Regions from separate parts of the Homo sapiens genome. Here region 2 is linked to region 1. A link means that fine-mapping ties the variant in region 1 to the plasma level of a protein whose gene starts in the linked region. Region 1 holds a variant in brackets. A gene starts in the other region. All regions are shown on one strand. Distances are from middle to middle.

Region 1 (10,123 bases):
ATAGTGACTGCAGGGTTCCATGTAGTGAGCACCCTGTGCTGGGTGCTGGGGTGTTCCTGTTCTCAAGACGGCCAATCCGGTGAGGGAAACACTGGCAGCACCGAGGGGAACCATAAAGGGCTGTGGGAGCCCAGAGGAGCTAGTGATTTCCTCCTCTGTGTATAGGCGTGTTGTTAACCGCTGATGGCATGTGTTAGGAACATCTGCACAGGTGCATAGGTCCAGGCACACATTTCTATATGCGGCTATAGGCGTTTCATACATACATTTCATTATGGACATGAGTCAGCAGTCAGCGTGCTCTCGTGGAAGGAGCCCTTGACTGGGAGGAAGGAGCCGTAGGGTAAACTCCCCCAGCTCCCTTACATGGTCCCTTGTGCCCTCGGACACGTCCCTGCCCCTCTCTGGCCTCATATCCAAAGAGCATTGGCTCACCCGGCCTGCTCTCTGGGGGCCGCACTTTAGATAGTGGGTGGGGAGCACCCGGACCGTGGCCTGGTACATGGGGGGTGCTGCGCAAGTGAGAGTTACCTCGACGGGGAGGTGCTTTGTAAACTGGGCCTGGTGCTCTGTGATGAACATGAAGGTGGTGCCGGTTGTGTGCATGCACACACAGGGTTGTGTGCAGGGAGGCATGCCCTGTGGAGACGGCCACGTGTCTAGCTGGGCTCCAAGCTGTGTTGGCAAGGCCAGGCTGGCTCCAGCCAAGATGGCCCTGGCTGCAGGGGCTGCCATGGGCCAGGGTCACACTTCCTGCGGCCTCTGACTCTGCTCTGAGGAGTGGGCCATGGGGGAGTAACAGGTCAGAGTCTACCTTGAGGGGAGGCTGTCAGTCTAGAGATAACAGAAAGGGAGCCACGAGGACGCAGCCATCCATCAGGGCAGCGACTTGCCTGGGGCACCCCCACCTCTCCAATGGGGGAGCTGAGGGCAGGCGGGTAGGCCAGCTTTCAGTCCTGGCTCTGTCTCATCCTAGCTGCCTGCCCTGGGGCCACTCTGCTTCCTCATCCATAAACCAGTGGCAGGAATGCCCATCCCATAGACTCGTGGTGAAGATGAAATGAGCCACATATGCGGAAGCAGATGGCACCATGATTGTGCATAGGTGTCCAATAAATGACAATTGTGACAACAACTGTCCTTCCTGCACTAATTTTCCCACTTGTCCCACCCCCAACCAGTCCTGCCAGAAGGAACAATACCTGTGCTAAGAAGCCCAGGTGCAGGGGTAAATGCTGTGGAAATGGATCCCTTTATTCAGCCAGCACCCAGAATGTGCAGATCACTGTCCTGGGCTGGGGAGAAGAGACTCGGGCCAGGAAAGCCACACATGGGCCAGAACTGGGAGAACTGAAGCCCAGGGCACAGCAACCTGCCTGGGAGGGAGGAGAAGATGAAGAGGGCTTCCTGGACCACACCATGGAGCCAGTGTTGGGCCTTGGAAGGGAGTGGGGAGGGCAAGAAGGACACAGTCATGGGTGGGGACAGGGCTGCCAGTGTGACACCTATGTTGGGGTGAGGAGGGGAGAAGAGTGGTTCAAGGGTGGGTGTCTCAGGGCAGCGGTCTGTGTGACCAGTGATGGTCACCTGCTGACAGAGGGGACAGAGGAGGGCCGTCTAGGTGGGGGAGGTGCACCAGCAAAGGCATGGAGTCATGAGAAAGATGAGGGGACCAGTCAGGCAGAGTCAAGGGGGTCACTGTCATGAAGCAGCTGGCTTTGGGTAGGGCTTGGGTGCCGGGGCCAAGCTCTTAGACCTGCAGAGCAGGTGGCATTGGGAGTCATTTGGTGGCTGGGGCAAGATTGAGTGGCTGACGGGTGGAAGAGCAAGAGTGACAGAATCTGTCTCCCACCTCAGGACCCAGGCAGTGGCTACCCCTACACCCCTAGCCCACCTGGGACAGCCCAGCCAACCCATCTGTGTGTGTGGCCCTCCCTACCTGCTGGCCGCAAGCTGAGAGTCAAGAGTCGCCTCCAATGTGGCCTCTGAGGTTGAGTTTGCTCCCACCACGCTGGCATAGGTAGATAGAGTGGGGCGTGATGGGATATTCATGAGGTAGTATTCTGTGCGGCTGGATGTGCTCTTGCACTCAGTTACCATGTAGCGTGTGCCCACGATGAAGATCTTGAGGTGGGACAGGTGGCTGGGCCAGACCCAAGCAGGAGCAAGGGCTGCTCAGGGGCTAATGGTGGGGGCTCTCTTCATTACTCCCCACTTGCCCTTCTAAATCCACTCCCCATCTATGCCTGTCCCGCTCTGTGCTTCAGGAGACTGACCGTTGCTGATTGTATCATCTGGGCTCCTTGTCCTGCAAGTGAGAGACAATGGCACCCGATGCGCGGAGGTCACAACGAGAGCTTTAGGGTATTTATCCCTATGCCTCCCTATCTGCTGGGTTGTGCTTTAGCTGTCACGAGGCTCCCCTAACTCGGGCCATCAGTTCCCATGGGCCGCTCTTCTTCCGTGGCTGTGACTCTTGTCACTTTCTTTTAACTGCCATTGCACCTTGACCCTTCAGGGCTTGAGGTGGTAATGGCTTTTGGCAGATTCAGTTCCCCCATCTCTGCCCATCCCTTGTGGGTCCTCTAATGCCACCTACCTCTGTAAATTATGTCCTCATGAGTTTACCATCAGTTTGCCCACGGAGTTTGCCATGTGTTTTGGGACAGCATTCTGCCTGACACAGAGAGTGAATGTGAGTGTAAAAAGGAATGAATAAATGTGAGCGAAGGAAAGAGTGGGTGAAAGTAAATGCATGAATGAATGAGAAAACAAGTGTGAATGAGGAATTTTTGTGTGAAACTTTCCTTGTTTATTTTGCTGAGGTTGTAGAATCCACACTGGCCAAATCGTGCTTTTCCCTGGATCCCCACTGAGAATGGCAGGTCAGTGAGTGCAGCAAGTGCAGGCTCTTTGGAGGACACCGTCTCACACCCTGGAGGGAAGAGGAGCATCCTGCCTCACAGACTTGCTTCAAATCTCACCTAGAGGTTTTGGAAGGCCAGACTGGCTACCTCAGAATCACAACATGGGCTCCTAGAAATGCAGATTCCTGGAGCCCAGCCTTCAGGGTCTGGTTCAGTAGCATGGGGGTGGGGCCCAGGAAGCTGTGTCATCAACCAGTCTCAGGGGACATTGACATCCAGCCAGGTTGGAGAATCACGGAGCTGGCCTGCTCACCTCATCTGAGAGATGAGAGGACAGGTGCAGAGAAATCCCTGGCTCATGTGGCAGCCCCTCCAAAGCTGTTTAGCATTGGAGGTCCCAACTCATTCGACTCTGTTGACCCAGAGAGGCACTGGGGTGGACAGTGGATGTAACAGACACAGACAGACACACAGACTGGATCCAAATCCCAGTGCTGACACTCCCCTAATGTGGGACGATCAAAGCCAGTCACTCCATTGCTCGACTTCACTTTTCCCATCTGTAAAATGGACGAGATGCCATCTACAGCTCAGGACCACTGTGAGACTTTGAGAGAATTCCTCCCTCCCAACTACATGGTGCAGAGAAGATTGCACGATCATTCTACTCATTAGCATTAGGTGGCACTCACTGAGATGCAGGTATGGCTCCAAACGCTTTACATGAATGGCCTCATTTATTTCCCACAAGCACTGCCTATGAAGTAGGAGCTGTGGTCATGCCTGTGCTGTAGATGAGGAGCCAGAGGCTTAGAGAGAATGAGTCTCTTGTCCAGGGACACACAGCAGCAGCGGGGACCTGGGCCCACAGGCCATCTGAGTCCCTGCAGCCTGCACTCTTCAGCCCTAAGCTAAAAATGGCAGGTCCCTCCCCCATTCTCCTTAAAGGTTAAAACAGAGGGTAGGACCAATCCTGTGGGGGAGAAAACAGAACAAAGAGCTCTGAGAGGAAGGAAGCCAAGGGAATGTATGTGAGCAGGCGCCTCAGAGAGTATGGGGCTCAGTGTGTCCCTGAGCTTCCTGACAGCTGTGGCAGGAAGAAGGGGGAGCAGAATTCCCAAGTTTCCATTTTCTGGAAAAAAAGGAGGCACAGTGACATTTCTAAATGGACATTTGTCTTGGATTCCAGAGGAGTTGATCTTGTGGCCAGCTCAGCAAACATCCGGGACTAGAGAGTCATCTGTGATTTCATGAGACTCTAAAAGGCTTGTTCACACACATGATGCCCAGAGTCAGAAGGCAGAGAGGGAAGAAGAAATATGAAATCCGATCCAGAGGATAACCTTGCTAGGCTGCTGTTTCCACAGCAGTGGGGGGATGGGAGGAGACCTAGACCTTGTCTGTGTGTCTGTCTGTCTCCTGGACACACACTGACTGCACTGCCTCTCTGGGAGGAGACGCAGGCTGCTGGTGTACCTCCAGACTTGCCATGCCTCCAAAGACTGGGCCCCAGGTTGCATGGGCAATGAGGTAGGGTGAGGTTGCCAGTGAGCGTCACACTGCTAGGGCCTGGGAGCTGAGGGCCAAGCTGGGTCTGTCCGGCTGGGCTCAATGGAGGATGCAGAGAGGAGCTGGCTGTGGGACTGGGAGAGGAGCGTGGGGCAGGTGGAAGGGTGTTGTAGGCAGGAGTCACCGGAGGTTTGGGGAGGGGTTAGACTTCTCACCCTCCCCAGATAGCACCCCTTGTGCTGCCCTTTCTGTGGTTCTTCTGTCTTGTGAGCCCTCTGTACCACCCCATCCCAATCGTACCCACTCATACAGGTGAGGCTGATTTGCCCCCATCCACCAGGATCGAGAGGGCAGCCTGAGACATCTGGTCCCATCGTGCATCTCCTGCTATAGGACTCTCAACCCCAGCACACAAACCACCCCTCAGCAGCCCCACACCACACCACCTACTGCCCGACATTGCAAGACCAGTTGGCTCAGGCATCATGGCTGACTTCCCGGTTCAGTACGATGTGGTCATGGAGGACATCATTAGAGCCGTGCAGGTGAGGGGGCCTGGGGAAGAGGAGAGAGGATGGGCTCTGGAGTCAGACAGGCCTGAGCACACTGCTCGGGTCTCTCCAGCTGGTCACTCCAGTTTCCCTAGGGATAAGTGAGAGCTAGC[G/A]AACAAGGATAGGCTGATGTGAAAAGACACATGGCTTCAACCTTGGGAGGCACATCGAATCCCCCAAAGGGTTGGAGACCTGGAACTGTCTCCAGTGAATCAAGTGCCCAAAGGACCCATCCCTAACTGAATCAAGTCATAGCCTGCTCGAAAACAGTCCTTCTGCAAAGTAAACCCTTGGCCACTAATTGGGCACTCATGTTCATGGGCTCTCATGCATTCTATAGCTCCTATACTCTCCTGTGTTCTCTTGGGCTTCCTTGCTCTCTCTCGGCTTTTAACAATCCTTATTGCTTCAGTGGAGCCATCTGCCTAAACAGGGAGCCCTTCAATTCTGAGTTTCCACATTCATGAAGAAAGAGCAGAGGTCCCACACTCTCCCAGATGGGAAAGGACAGAGCACTGATCCCAGGGCCCTGGCTTGAGCACAAGGATGGCGGGGCAGCCTGAGACATCTGGTTCCACTCTGCCTCTCCCGCCACAGAACTCTCAACCCCAGCACACAAACCACCCTCCAGCTGCCCCAAACCACACCACACCACACCACACTTTTCTCCAAAACACCCGAGCCTGCCTCTCATCTGTGTGAGCATTTGCTCATGGTGGCCACTGCCCTGAGAATGACTTCTTCCTCCTTGCTCCACTGCTCAGCATCCTTGTGTTCCTGAAACACTGCCGAAACACCTCCTCCTTGATGACTCCAGTCCACCAACAATTCGTTTGTCTGCCCTGGACTAAAAGTGTCCCATGGTTAAACCTCTTCTCATGCATCATTCATTCATTCATTCACATGTTGAATGAATAAGTGGACTAGGCCAGTCTTGTACTCATTGACTCTGACAACTCAGAAGTGAGTCAGACACAGCCACTCATCTCCCTCTGCCATCACCCCATCCTGAAGCACCCAGATACACAGAGCCTTGACAGTCATCAAGTGTTCTAGGTGTTGTGTTTAAGTGTGTCATGGGTTCTGTCGTGGTGCCAGTGGAGGAGGGTTTCAGGGCCGTCATCCTAAAGGAGTTGGAATTTAAGTAAGCATGGGAAAAATGAATTGGATATACCTGCAAGTCGGTCGAGAAGGTGAAGGGAAAGGCATGCAGTGAGAAGGAACAGCATTGCAGAGGCACAGAGGTGTGGCTCAGTCTGTTGTGTAGGGGGAGTAAAAGTTATTCTCCTGCCAGGATAGGAGCCAAGGGTACCTTGCCAGCAGGTGGCAGCAGGGGCTTTAACCTGGTGTTATGTCTCGTGGGTGTGTTTAGTTCATGGAGGTATTCCTCTGCTGGTTCATTCTTTACCATCACCACAGCTGCCTGCAGTTGAAATACGGATGGATGGAGGCATGGGATTAAGCATTGACTAGTACAACCAGGAACTCCCAAGCACCGTGAGCCCTGACCCCCTCTGACACCCTGCCAGGAACACTCAGGTCATCTCCCACTTCCTATTTGAGTGTGCTCCTCTTTGAAAGCCCAGCACATCATCAGATCATCCACCCCGCTGGGGCTCACTGAGCACCTCATCTGTGTCATACCTGGTGTTGGCTGACGTTGGGAACCCCAAAGGGTATCACACACACCGCCTACCTATTGTCTATGGGCGAGACACAGAAACCCAATATTGGCACTAGGGTAGAATTGCCCTTTCCATGACACACAAGGTAGGATGGAAGCCATAATGAAGAGGAAAGGCAGTTCCAGAAGGTTCCCAGGGGGAGACCAAGGCTGACCTGTCTGTTAAGGAATTAATAAAAATGGGCCATAGGCGAGGGCCTGTGGGAGGGAAAGGCATTCCAGCAATGTAGTGGCTGCCTGAGAAAAGAAACAGGCAAAAACTTACCAAGTATGTGTAGGGAATTGCAAACAGCTTGGCGTTCTGGAGCAGAGATTTGAGATGAAAAACCCAAAGAGCCACATAGAAGGCTGGAGAGTCCTGCAGGGCAACACAAGGAATATGGTATTTGTCCTGTAGTTGAACAGGGAGCCATGAGATAAAATGACATGTGAGGTAATGTTTACAGGGTCTCAGCGGCTGCCTCTGAGCAGCATGGATGGGAGAGGCCGCAGTAGAAGAGGGAAACTGAGAAAAATGAGGCCTAAGCTTGGGCTTGGTCAGTTAGGGATGAAGAGGAGGGTGGCCTGGAGAAGCATCCAGCAGAGAAAAGCAATAAGAATTGGAAGTTGATTGGCTGCAGGGAATGGGGGCCACCTGAAGATTGAAGGCAACACTCAGATTTGTCTCCAGAGTGACCATGTGGATGATGGTGCCCCTGACTGCGAAGGCATAAAGGGCCAAGTAGGGGCAGGACAACGAATTCATTGTTTGGGCAGGATGCATTGGAGGCTTCTTGAAACATTCCGGGGCAGATGTCCAACTGTGAGTCTGCACCCACTGGTGAGGGGGCAATTGTGGGAGCCCTAGATGGGAGAAGAGATTCAGAGTGACTGGTAGGGCTTCTGTGGTGGAAACCAAGTGACAGAGGGAGGTCACCTAGGGAGCATGTGTGGAGCCAGAAGGGAAGATCCTTCAAGGCAGCAGCTAAGGTGGAGTGGCCCAATCCAGCAGCTATGGATCCCTTCAGCCACCCCATCAACTGCGCACAGCCTGCCCAGAGCCCCAGTCCCCAGCAGTTCACTCCATTGAGCTGCACCAGCATAATTATTTTCTTTGACCTGAGAAATACTGGGAAACACTGCGAAGGGAGTGGGCAGACAGAAGTGGTAGGAGAATAAGGAGAGTTCACTGTAGCAGATTGCAGGGAAAACGACTTTTTTTTTTTAAATTTTATTTTATTTTTTATTATACTTTAAGTTTTAGGGTACATGTGCACATTGTGCAGGTTAGTTACATATGTATACATGTGCCATGCTGGTGTGCTGCACCCACTAACTCATCATCTAGCATTAGGCATACCTCCCAATGCTATCCCTCTCCCCTCCCCCCACCCCACAACAGTCCCCAGAGTGTGATGTTCCCCTTCCTGTGTCCATGTGTTCTCATTGTTCAATTCCCACCTATGAGTGAGAATATGCGGTGTTTGGTTTTTTGTTCTTGCAATAGTTTACTGAGAATGATGATTTCCAATTTCATCCATGTCCCTACAAAGGACATGAACTCATCATTTTTTATGGCTGCATAGTATTCCATGGTGTATATGTGCCACATTTTCTTAATCCAGTCTATCATTGTTGGACATTCGGGTTGGTTCCAAGTCTTTGCTATTGTGAATAATGCCGCAATAAACATACGTGTGCATGTGTCTTTATAGCAGCATGATTTATAGTCCTTTGGGTATATACCCAGTAATGGGATGGCTGGGTCAAATGGTATTTCTAGTTCTAGATCCCTGAGGAATCGCCACACTGACTTCCACGATGGTTGAACTAGTTTCCAGTCCCACCAACAGTGTAAAAGTGTTCCTATTTCTCCACATCCTCTCCAGCACCTGTTGTTTCCTGACTTTTTAATGATTGCCATTCTAACTGGTGTGAGATGGTATCTCATTGTGGCTTTGATTTGCATTTCTCTGAAGGCCAGTGATGATGAGCATTTTTTCATGTGTTTTTTGGCTGCATAAATGTCTTCTTTTGAGAAGTGACTGTTCATGTCCTTCGCCCACTTTTTGATGGGGTTGTTTGTTTTTTTCTTGTAAATTTGTTTGAGTTCATTGCAGATTCTGGATATTAGCCCTTTGTCAGATGAGTAGGTTGCAAAAATTTTCTCCTATTTTGTAGGTTGCCTGTTCAGTCTGATGGTAGTTTCTTTTGCTGTGCAGAAGCTCTTTAGTTTAATTAGATCCCATTTGTCAATTTTGTCTTTTGTTGCCATTGCTTTTGGTGTTTTAGACATGAAGTCCTTGCCCATGCCTATGTCCTGAATGGTAATGCCTAGGTTTTCTTCTGGGGTTTTTATGGTTTTAGGTCTAACGTTTAAGTCTTTAATCCATCTTGAATTGATTTTTGTATAAGGTGTAAGGAAGGGATCCAGTTTCAGCTTTCTACATATGGCTAGCCAGTTTTCCCAGCACCATTTATTAAATAGGGAATCATTTCCCCATTGCTTGTTTTTCTCAGGTTTGTCAAAGATCAGATAGTTGTAGATATGCGGCATTATTTCTGAGGGCTCTGTTCTGTTCCGTTGATCTATATCTCTGTTTTGGTACCAGTACCATGCTGTTTTGGTTACTGTAGCCTTGTAGTATAGTTTGAAGTCAGGTAGTGTGATGCCTCCAGCTTTGTTCTTTTGGCTTAGGATTGAATTGGCAATGCAGGCTCTTTTTTGGTTCCATATGAACTTTAAAGAGAAAGCAGGAAAGATCCAAAATTGACACCCTAACATCACAATTAAAAGAACTAGAAAAGCAAGAGCAAACACATTCCAAAGCTAGCAGAAGGCAAGAAATAACTAAAATCAGAGCAGAACTGAAGGAAATAGAGACACAAAAAACCCTTCAAAAAATTAATGAATCCAGGAGCTGGTTTTTTGAAAGGATGAACAAAATTGATAGACCGCTAGCAAGACTAATAAAGAAAAAAAGAGAGAAGAATCAAATAGACGCAATAAAAAATGATAAAGGGGATATCACCACCGATCCCACAGAAATACAAACTACCATCAGAGAATACTACAAACACCTCTATGCAAATAAACTAGAAAATCTAGAAGAAATGGATAAATTCCTCAACACATACACTCTCCCAGACTAAACCAGGAGGAAGTTGAATCTCTGAATAGACCAATAACAGGCTCTGATATTGTGGCAGTAATCAATAGCTTACCAACCAAAAAGAGTCCAGGACCAGATGGATTCACAGCCGAATTCTACCAGAGGTACAAGGAGGAACTGGTACCATTCCTTCTGAAACTATTCCAATCAATAGAAAAAGAGGGAATCCTCCCTAACTCATTTTATGAGGCCAGCATCATTCTGATACCAAAGCTGGGCAGAGACACAACCAAAAAAGAGAATTTTAGACCAATATCCTTGATGAACATTGATGCAAAAATCCTCAGTAAAATACTGGCAAAACGAATCCAGCAGCACATCAAAAAACTTATCCACCATGATCAAGTGGGCTTCATCCCT
Region 2 (9,738 bases), 12 Mb after region 1:
GCAGTTCTGCTTTCCTCAGGATGCTCCACAAGTCTGATCCACTGTCCCCGCCTTCACTAACACCCAGCCTCCTTCTCTTCTTTATCTCCCAACCCTAGATGCTCAAGGTTGTTGGACACGTCCAGGCATGTTCTCAGAGGCAATGCAGGTCCAGTAAGAGCCTACAGGAAATGGCTCGCCAAGATCCTAGAGATGTCAGCCCAGATCCCTGATACCTCAGAAAGCGCTCTCCGGACACAAATGGATGGACTGACAGCCAGCCACAGGGCGCCTTCCCAATTGTTCTGATTTTGCGGTACCCTAGCAGGATCATCCTGACCTGATTCTGTACTTCTGCACCTAGATGCCGCAGGTCCCAGCCGCCTTGCCACACCAGGGGGTGTTCCCACACTCACCCGGTAACGGACGAGTAGATGGCTCTTGCTCCCAAATGGGACTCCGGTACAAATCCACCTCAGCGCAGAGCACACATCTCACCCAGCCCCCTCCCGTCACCCCCCGCCCTTCACCCCGCGCCCCTCAGCCCCCGCCCCTCAGACCCGCCCATCAGCCCCGCCCCTCAGCCCCCGCCCCTCAGCCCCCAGCCTGCATACACACTCACAGTATATGAAATTCCTTGTAATCAAAGTTCCGCTTGACTCATTTCACATCCACGTGTAGCAACAACAGCCCAAACCCTCCTTTCACGGTAAGCTTACCTCTTCCGCCCCCGTGAAGTTCCTAGAGCAGCTATTGGACTGTTTGAGTGCCTAGGCGTGGCTACGAAAAGAAACTGCCTTTGAGAGGAACAATGTGAGGCTGAAGAACAGTGACCCAGCCACTGGTATGGCAGGAGCTGCAAATCTCCTGGGACTGAAGCGGGGGCCAGAGAGTAGAGGGCCAGGGAGTGGGGTCCAGAGAAAGCATCAAGTTGTCTCTTTCACAGCTGAATGCAGCTCAGCTCATCAAAGTTTATTCATGACTTAGCAGGCTTGGAGTTTGACAGGGAAAATTATTGTTGGAAAAGCCAAAATTTTCAGACACATGGAGAAGCCGCTTTCCAGCTCTGCATCTGCCTCAAAAAAATACTCCTCCATTCAGAAGGGTAGATAGGATTGTGACAGGAGGAAGAGAGCAGACATGAAGCAGGGAAAAGACCACTAAAAATAAAGGAAAATTGGATTCGGCACTCAGCTTTGATCATCCATCTTCTCTGGGCCCCTGAGTGTCTGTACAAGGAGGGGGTTGAGCTACGTAGTCTCTAAGGGCACTTCAAACAATGACACTTTGGGAGTTTATTAATCCATGATCTCAGAGGCAGCGGTGGATAAATCCCGAAACGTTACTAGTCCCTGACCTTGAAGAGTTTGCAGAGCTGGGAAGATAAAGTAGACCGGACAGAGACAGAGAATTAAGGGCCAAACTATGAGGTGCAGACTGGAAGGGTTTGGGGGCCAGTAGGAAGAAGGAGTAAAAAAGAGTCTGACAAGGAAAGCAAATGCTTTTCAATAGATTAGGAGCTTTTAAAAGAGGTCAAAGAGGAAATAGCCTAATGGGTAGAGGAAAAGAAAAGCTTGAGCCAAGGTATGGGGGAGAGGACCAAGAAATGAGCCATTATCAGTCTCTGAGGGACCCCTCCTGTACTGGGCAGAGGCTATATGCCAGCTCAGGGTGGAGTCTCAGTAAAGCAGCTGAAAAGCCTTTGGTGGGAAAGGGCTGAATAGGCCCTAAGCTGAAGTAGAAAAAGTCCTAAATGAACTTCATATCTGTCCCCTAGCTAGAGTTAAGACCAGAATAGGCTACTGTGGGCTCAGGCCTAGTAGAAGGGAAAACTGCCAGAATTGGAATCCTAGGTCTGCCCCTTACTAGCTTTGTGACCTAAGGCAAGTTACTTAACCACTCTGTGGCTCAGGATTCTCTTCTGTAAAGTGGGGAAAATAACAATCCCTTACTCATAGGATTGTTTTAGGTATTATATGAGTTAATATACAAAATAGTGTTCATATGCGTAAGGAGCTTAGAATGATTTCTGGGACGTAGTGGTATAGAAGTGTTTATTAAATATAAATAAATACATGAATGCAATTTAGGGACCTCTGAAATCATCTGTGAGATTCAAATGAAAATAGCTACCCTGGGTACCTCCTAATTCTGTTCTGTCCTTTCCTAGAAAACAGGACCTCTTCTTTTTCTCCATCCTTTCCTACCCAGAGAAGCTGAATTACAGACAGTTTTGAAACTTTAGTGTAAAGAACCCTAGCTTGGAATTTAGATGTCTTGACAAAACTAAGTGTAACATCATGTAAATCTCTTCCTCTCTCTTAGTTTTCCTTTCTGCATCTGTATCCTGAAGAGACTGTTGGACTGGATGACCTTGAAACGCTAGAGCCGTGCTTCTCTCATATTAATGTGCACACAAATCACCTAAGGATCTTGTTAAAACACAGATTCTGAGTTAGCAGCTGTGGTGTGGGACTAAGACTCTGATTTTCTAACTGCTTCCAGGTGATATTGATGGTGCTGGGCCACAGACCATAGTTTTAGTAGCAAAGGTTTAGAAGGTGGACAAGAATAACATTTACTGAGCACCTATAAATCATGCATATGTGTCCCTTTATACCTTACAACCATTCTATGAGGTTGAGGTTACCATCCTCATTTTGTAGATGAAGAGGCTCCTTGTACTCTGTGATTCTGCCTGGAAGTACAGGAGGAAACTTGAGATAGAGGTACCAGGGATATGTCAGAGTCCACAAGCTATTGTGGAAAGTGATTATAAGCAGCAAATATGAAACCACTGTCCTCCACCATAACTTGTCCAATAATACTATAACAGTTAGCTGGCCCTCACTAAGCACTTGCCAGGCACTGCTCAAATTTTTTTCATGAATTAATTCATTTTATCTTCATAATCTATGAAGCCACAATCATTAGAATTATCCTCCCCTCTCCTTTTGCTCACACCTCACATTCAACCCATCAGCACATCCTATCAGCTCTGCCTCCTGCCTCAGAGATAAACTCTGAATTTCACCAACTTCTTAGCACCTTCACTGCAACCACTCTGGTGCAAGCCACGATTACTTTTCACCTGAATTATTGCCATATCCTCCAATAGCTCTCCTTGCTCTCATGCTTACCCCACTCCAGTCAATTCTCAGCAGAGCAACCAGAATGATCCTTTTAAAAGTACATCAGTCTAAGTCTGTCCAAGCAATTCTACTGGTTGGCTTCTTATTCAGCAGAAAACCCAAAATCCTTAACTATGGTCTATAATAGTCTACAATCTATCCCACGCCATCCCATCCTCACTAACCTGCCCCTCTATCTCTGATCTCACCTCTTACCACTCGCCTTGACCACCATACCCAACCCCAACTGGCGGCCTTGATATTTTTTCCAACACTCAAAGCATGCTCAAGACTCTGGTCTTTGCACTTGCTGCTCCTTCAGCCTAGCCAATTCTTCCCCCAGATATCAGCATGGCTCCTTTTCTCACTTCCTCCATATCCCTGCTTAAATGTCACTTTATCAAAGTGGACTTTCTTGAATACCCTAGCTAGTACAAGCTAATGGGATTGCCTAGGCCTTTTGAAATCCACTGGGTAGGTGAGCTTTTTCTCAACATAGCCCCAGGACCCCCGGTGCAGTGTGGTGGTGAGTAGGGTTAAGGCTCTCAACTCTGCTCTCTGTGGGGGAGCCACTCTAGCTCCATGTGCTTGTGCAGCAGAACTAAGTTTGGATCAGCTAATTTCTTGGGGGCTTTCCACAGCCCCTCCTTTTATGATAAACAGGAGTCACTTTGTGAACCCAAACTGAGAACTATCAGTACAGAGTTTCTCTACCTACATTCTACTGCTGGAACCAGCCTAACCTGACAGCAGGATAGGCAGGACCAGCCTCCACTCTGCTTATCTCTGGGACCAGACAGATTCTGGGGCTCAGTGAGATTCAGGGCTCTCTGATGCCACCCCTCAGCTCTCTCTCAGAGGTTACTTAGGGTCACTCAGGGGAATACTGGCCTTGGCTGTGTCTCAGAGAATCCTGGGTAGCCTCTAATTCTAGTGTCCAACAATGGCAGGACCACCTTTCATGAAGGAGCTTCATGGTTATCCAGGCAGAATGGGGCCCTTATAGCTCCTCTCAAGACTGGGACCAGGGGGCAGGAAAAGAAGCTGAAAGACTAAGGGGATGCTGAGGCCTGTGGGGCAACCCCTGTAAACTCAAACATTGCTAAGGATGTCCCTGAACACAATATCAGCTTCTTGTTCTCTTTAGCCTGTGAGATGTGTGTAGATAAACTTGGCCATAAATGTTTGCTGCAGTGGTGTATACAGGCTTAGGTCTTCTGAATTAGAAAGCTGGGGTATAAGAGTTACTTCTAGCCATGGGAATTTTCAAACTTCAGCTAGATTCTAGCACAGTCCAATAGTGTTATCTCTCATTTTAAATAATCTTCTATTCCACTTGCCCAAGATGGCTTTTAAAACTCACTCTTCTTAAGTCAAGTGCTCAACACAGCTCCCAAACCCCTAGCAGATGACTTCACCTCCAGTTTCACCGAGAATGTAAAAGGGCACGAAACTTGAAGTCTAAACAACTTCTGACATCTCCACATTCAAGTTCATCCTGTTTCTTACCTCAGAGTTTCCTCCTGTCCCTCCTGTCTCCATCTGTGTTTACTCCTGTCTATTCCATTTTGCTTTATTTGTATCTTCATGGTCTTTCTTCCTCTGGCTCTTTCTCCTAAATTGTCTTTCCATTCTGAACTAAGATTAATTCTTTTCATATCCTCACCTCCACCTCTTCATTTCCAAACTCACTACATTTTGCTCTTCTCAAGGTCACCCATGATTTTCATACTATCAAACCCATGGATTCTTCTGTTTTCTTATTTGAATTATCTAAAACATCCAACATTGTCTGGATTCTTTTCTTTCTGACTCTCTTCCCTTGACTTTCATGGAACTAATGTCTTCTAGTTTCACTTATTTCTCTACAGCATTTTATGGATTCTCATTCTCCACTTGCCCCTCAAGTGCAGGGATTTTACAGAGTTCCTCCCACCCTCCATTGTCCCTCTGGCCTGATTCTAACTTCTCTCACTGGAGTGTGAACCTATGTGGCAGGGACCTTATATACCATTTCACAAATTTCCACATGCAAAACTGTACCTAGAGTATTTTAAGCGCTCAATACATTTTTACATATTATATATATCAATATATCTGTTGAATAAGCCCAAGGAGAAAAATGTTCACATTTGAATGTATCCTTCTATAATGAGCTCCCAGGCCTCAGGTGTGCCACAATAAAAATAAGATGGCTAAAAAGGAATTGAAACCCACACCCAAAATAATAATAATAGCCAACACTTGATCAATGCTTGATGAACTCTATATGTCAGGCCCTATGCCAAATGTTCTGTATGCAATAGCTCATTTAATCATCACAATAATCCTATGAGGCAAAAACCATGACATCACTCCTATTTTATAGATGACAAAATTGAGGCACAGAAACGATAGGTGACTTATCTATGCCATCTATCAGTGCCACAACCAATAAGTGGCAATTGACCCAGGATTCTCAAGAATAGCTGATGCCTTAATTATTCACTGTCACACTCAAATGTACAATCCTTGCTTTCCCTTCCAATCAGAGGCTCCTTCCATCCTCTCTGAAGAGCTATTCTAAACCTCTACCTTTAGAAGTAAAGGTTAAGTTCCTACTTTAGCACTGAATTCTTAGCCCAGAAACATTGACTCTTTTCTTCTTCATCAATAAAACAGATTCTATTAGGCATTTAGTGCCTATAACTTCTTCCCTAATTCCTATAAGGTTCTCTCTGTCTTCATTCATCTTGGCCTTTCCTCTTGAAGAAGAGGAGAGAATGCCTCCCCTGATATTTATGAATCTTTCTCCATCAATTACCCCCACTCTCTATGGCATCATTATTTACCTGTCTTCTGTGCCTACCCCTTTAACTCGTAAACATATTTGAATTCCTCCCACTACAAAATAAAATCAACCCTTCTACCACATTTCCTCTTTCTCAAACAACAGCCTCGTCTCATTTTTTTTCTTAGCCAAATTTCTGGATAGAGTTTTCTCTAATAACTGTTTCCATGACTTTAATTTCCATTAGCTCCCCAACCTACTATAATCTGGCTTCTAGCCCCATTTGTTCTCCCTAAAGCTACAGGGGACCACTTAACTGCCAAATTTTAGGAAACATTTTCTCTCATCTTTTTTTTTCTTTTTTTTATTATACTTTAAGTTTCAGGGTACATGTGCACAACATGCAGGTTTGTTACATATGTATACATGTGCCATGTTGGTGTGCTGCACCCATTAACTCATCATTTACATTAGGTGTATCTCCTAATGCTATCCCTCCCTCCTTCCCCCACCCCACAACAGGCCCCGGGTGTGATGTTCCCCTTCCCGTGTCCAAGTGTTCTCATTGTTCAATTCCCACCTATGAGTGAGAACACGTGGTGTTTGGTTTTTTGTCCTTGCGATAGTTTGCTAAGAATGATGGTTTCCAGCTTCATCCATGTCCCTACAAAGGACATGAACTCATCATTTTTTATGGCTGCATAGTATTCCATGGTGTATATGTGCCACATTTTCTTAATCCAGTCTATCATTGTTGGACATTTGGGTTGGTTCCAAGCCTTTGCTACTGTGAATAGTGCTGCAATAAACATACGTGTGCATGTGTCTTTATAGCAGCATGATTTATGCACCTTTGGGTATACATGCAGTAATGGGATGGCTGGGTCAAATGGTATTTCTGGTACTAGATCCCGGAGGAATAGCCACACTGACTTTCACAATGGTTGAACTACTTTACAGTCCCACCAACAGTGTAAAAGTGTCCCCATTTCTCCACATCCTCTCCAGCACCTGTTGTTTCCTAACTTTTTAGTGATCGCCCTTCTAACTGGTGTGAGATGGTATCTCATTGTGGTTTTGATTTGCATTTCTCTGATGGCCAGTGATGATGAGCATTTTTTCATGCCTCTGTTGGCTGCATAAATGTCTTCTTTTCAGAAATGTCTATTCATATCCTTCGCCCATTGTTGATGGGGTTGTCTGATTTTTCTTGTAAATTTGTTTGAGTTCATTGTAGATTCTGGATATTAGGCCTTTGTCAGATGAGTAGATTGCAAAAATTTTCTCCCATTCTGTAGGTTGCCTGTTCACTCTGATGGAAGTTGCTTTTGCTGTGCAGAAGCTCTTTAGTTTAATTATATCCCATTTGTCAAATTTGGCTTTTGTTGCCATTGCTTTTGGTGTTTTAGACATGAAGTCCTTGTCCATGCCTATGTCCTGAATGGTATTGCCTAGGTTTTCTTCTAGGGTTTTTATGGTTTTAGGTTTAACATTTAAGTCTTTAATCCGTCTTGAATTAATTTTTGTATAAGGTGTAAGGAAGAGGTCCAGTTTCAGCTTTCCACATATGGCTAGCCAGTTTTCCCAGCACCATTTATTAAACAGGGAATCCTTTCCCCATTTCTTGTTTTTATCAGGTTTGTCAAAGATCAGATAATTATAGATGTGTCGTATTATTTCTGAGGGCTCTGTTCTATTCCATTGGTCTATATCTCTGTTTTGGTACCAGTACCATGCTGTTTTGGTTACTGTAGCCTTGTAGTACAGTTTGAAGTCAGGTAGCATGATGCCTGCAGCTTTCTTCTTTGGCTTAGGATTGACTTGGCAATGTGGGCTCTTTTTTGGTTCCATATGAACTTTAAAGTAGTTTTTTCCAATTCTGTGAAGAAAGTCATTGGTAGCTTGATGGGGATGGCATTGAATCTATGAATTACCTTGGGCAGTATGGCCATTTTCATGATATTGATTCTTTCTATCCATGAGCATGGAATGTTCTTCCATGTGTTTGTATCCTCTTTTATTTCGTTGAGCAGTGGTTTGTAGTTCTCCTTGAAGAGGTCCTTCACATCCCTTGTAAGTTGGATTCCTAGGTATTTTATTCTCTTTGAAGCAATTGTGAATGGGAGTTCACTCATGATTTGGCTCTCTGTTTGTCTGTTATTGGTGTATAAGAATGCTTGTGATTTTTGCACATTGATTTTGTATCCTGAGACTTTGCTGAAGTTGCTTATCAGCTTAAGGAGATTTTGGGCTGAGACAATGGGGTTTTCTAGATATACAATCATGTCATCTGCAAACAGGGACAATTTGACTTCCTCTTTTCCTAATTGAATACCCTTTATTTCCTTCTCCTGCCTAATTGCCCTGGCCAGAACTTCCAACACTATGTTGAATAGGAGTGGTGAGAGAGGGTATCCCTGTCTTGTGCTGATTTTCAAAGGGAATGCTTCCAGTTTTTGCCTATTCAGTATGATATTGGCTGTGGGTTTGTCATAAATAGCTCTTATTATTTTGAGATACATCCCATCAATACCTAATTTATTGAGAGTTTTTAGCATGAAGGGGTGTTGAATTTTGTCAAAGGCCTTTTCTGCATCTATTGAGATAATCATGTGGCTTTTGTCGTTGGTTCTATTTATATGCTGGATTATGTTTATTGATTTGCATATGTTGAACCAGCCTTGCATCCCAGGGATGAAGCCCACTTGACCATGGTGGATAAGCTTTTTGATGTGTTGTTGGATTTGGTTTGCCAGTATTTTATTGAGGATTTTTGCATCAATGTTCATCAAGGAAATTGGTCTAAAATTCTCTTTTTTGGTTTTGTCTCTGACAGGCTTTGGTATCAGGATGATGCTGGCCTCATAAAGTGAGTTAGGGAGGATTCCCTCTTTTTCTATTCATTGGAATAGTTTCAGAAGGAATGGTACCAGCTCCTCTTTGTACCTCTGGTAGAATTCGGCTGTAAATCCATCTGGTCCTGGACTTTTTTTGGTTGGTAAGCTATCAATTATTGCCTCAATTAAGAACCTGTTATTGGTCTATTCAGAGATTCAACTTCTTCCTTGTTTAGTGTTGGGAGGGTGTATGTGTTGAGGAATTTATGCATTTCTTCTAGATTTTATAGTTTATTTGCGTACAGGTATTTATAGTATGCTCTGATGGTAGTTTGTATTTCTGTGGGATCGGTGGTGATCTCCCTTTTATCACTTTTTATTACATCTGTTTGATTCTTCTCGTTTCTTCTTTTTTAGTCCTGCTAGCAGTCTATTAATTTTGTTGATCTTTTCAAAAAACCAGCTCCTGGATTCATTGGTTTCTTTGAAGCTTTTTTTGTGTCTCTATCTCCTTCAGTTCTGCTCTGATCTTAGTTATTTCTTGCCTTCTGCTAGCTTTTGAATGTGTTTCCTCTTGCTTCTCTAGTTCTTTTAATTGTGATGTTAGGGTGTCAATTTTAGATCTTTTCTGCTTTCTCTTGTGGGCATTTAGTGGTATAAATTTCCCTCTACAAACTGCTTTAAATGTGTCCCAGAGATTCTGGTACGTTGTGTCTTTGTTCTCGTTGGTTTCAAAGAACATCTTTATTTCTGCCTTCATTTCGTTATGTACCCAGTAGTCATTCAGGAGCAGGTTGTTCAGTTTCCATGTAGTTGAGCGCCTTTGAGTGTGTTTCTTAATCCTGAGTTCTAGTTTGATTGCACTGTGGTCTGAGAGACAGTTGGTTATAATTTCTGTTCTTTTACATTTGCTGAGGAGTGCTTTACTTCCAACTATGCCGTCAATTTTGGAATAAGTGCGGTGTGGTGCTGAGAAGAATGTATATTCTGTTGATTTGGGTTGCAGAATTCTGTAGATGTC

Direction of the effects. Alleles are on the strand shown, and positions count from the first base shown. The strength of an association depends on the size of the effect and on how common the allele is.
For the plasma level of the protein whose gene starts at base 479 in region 2, A is the low allele of the variant in region 1 and G is the other (weak association).

What was found. A credible set is the group of variants that fine-mapping cannot tell apart. PIP is the posterior inclusion probability: the model's chance that the variant is causal. Protein levels are from antibody-based Olink assays in UK Biobank. Linkage for the fine-mapping came from a reference panel and not from the study's own genotypes, which makes the PIPs less certain.
Region 2: EDA2R starts here. The variant in region 1 is the best candidate, but not a certain one, in a credible set for the plasma level of the EDA2R protein (UK Biobank, PIP 0.72).

Annotation. Positions count from the first base shown.
Region 1 is chrX:54,819,992-54,830,114 of GRCh38, forward strand. No RefSeq gene overlaps it. Among named protein-coding and RNA genes, the nearest start is that of SNORA11, 11 kb to the left of the region's middle. The variant G/A (reference allele first, on the strand shown) is at 5,041.
Region 2 is chrX:66,638,600-66,648,337 of GRCh38, forward strand. It overlaps EDA2R (ectodysplasin A2 receptor), which reads right to left and starts at 479. Exons shown (of 7, transcript NM_021783.5): 1 at 396-479. RefSeq lists an enhancer at 1-299.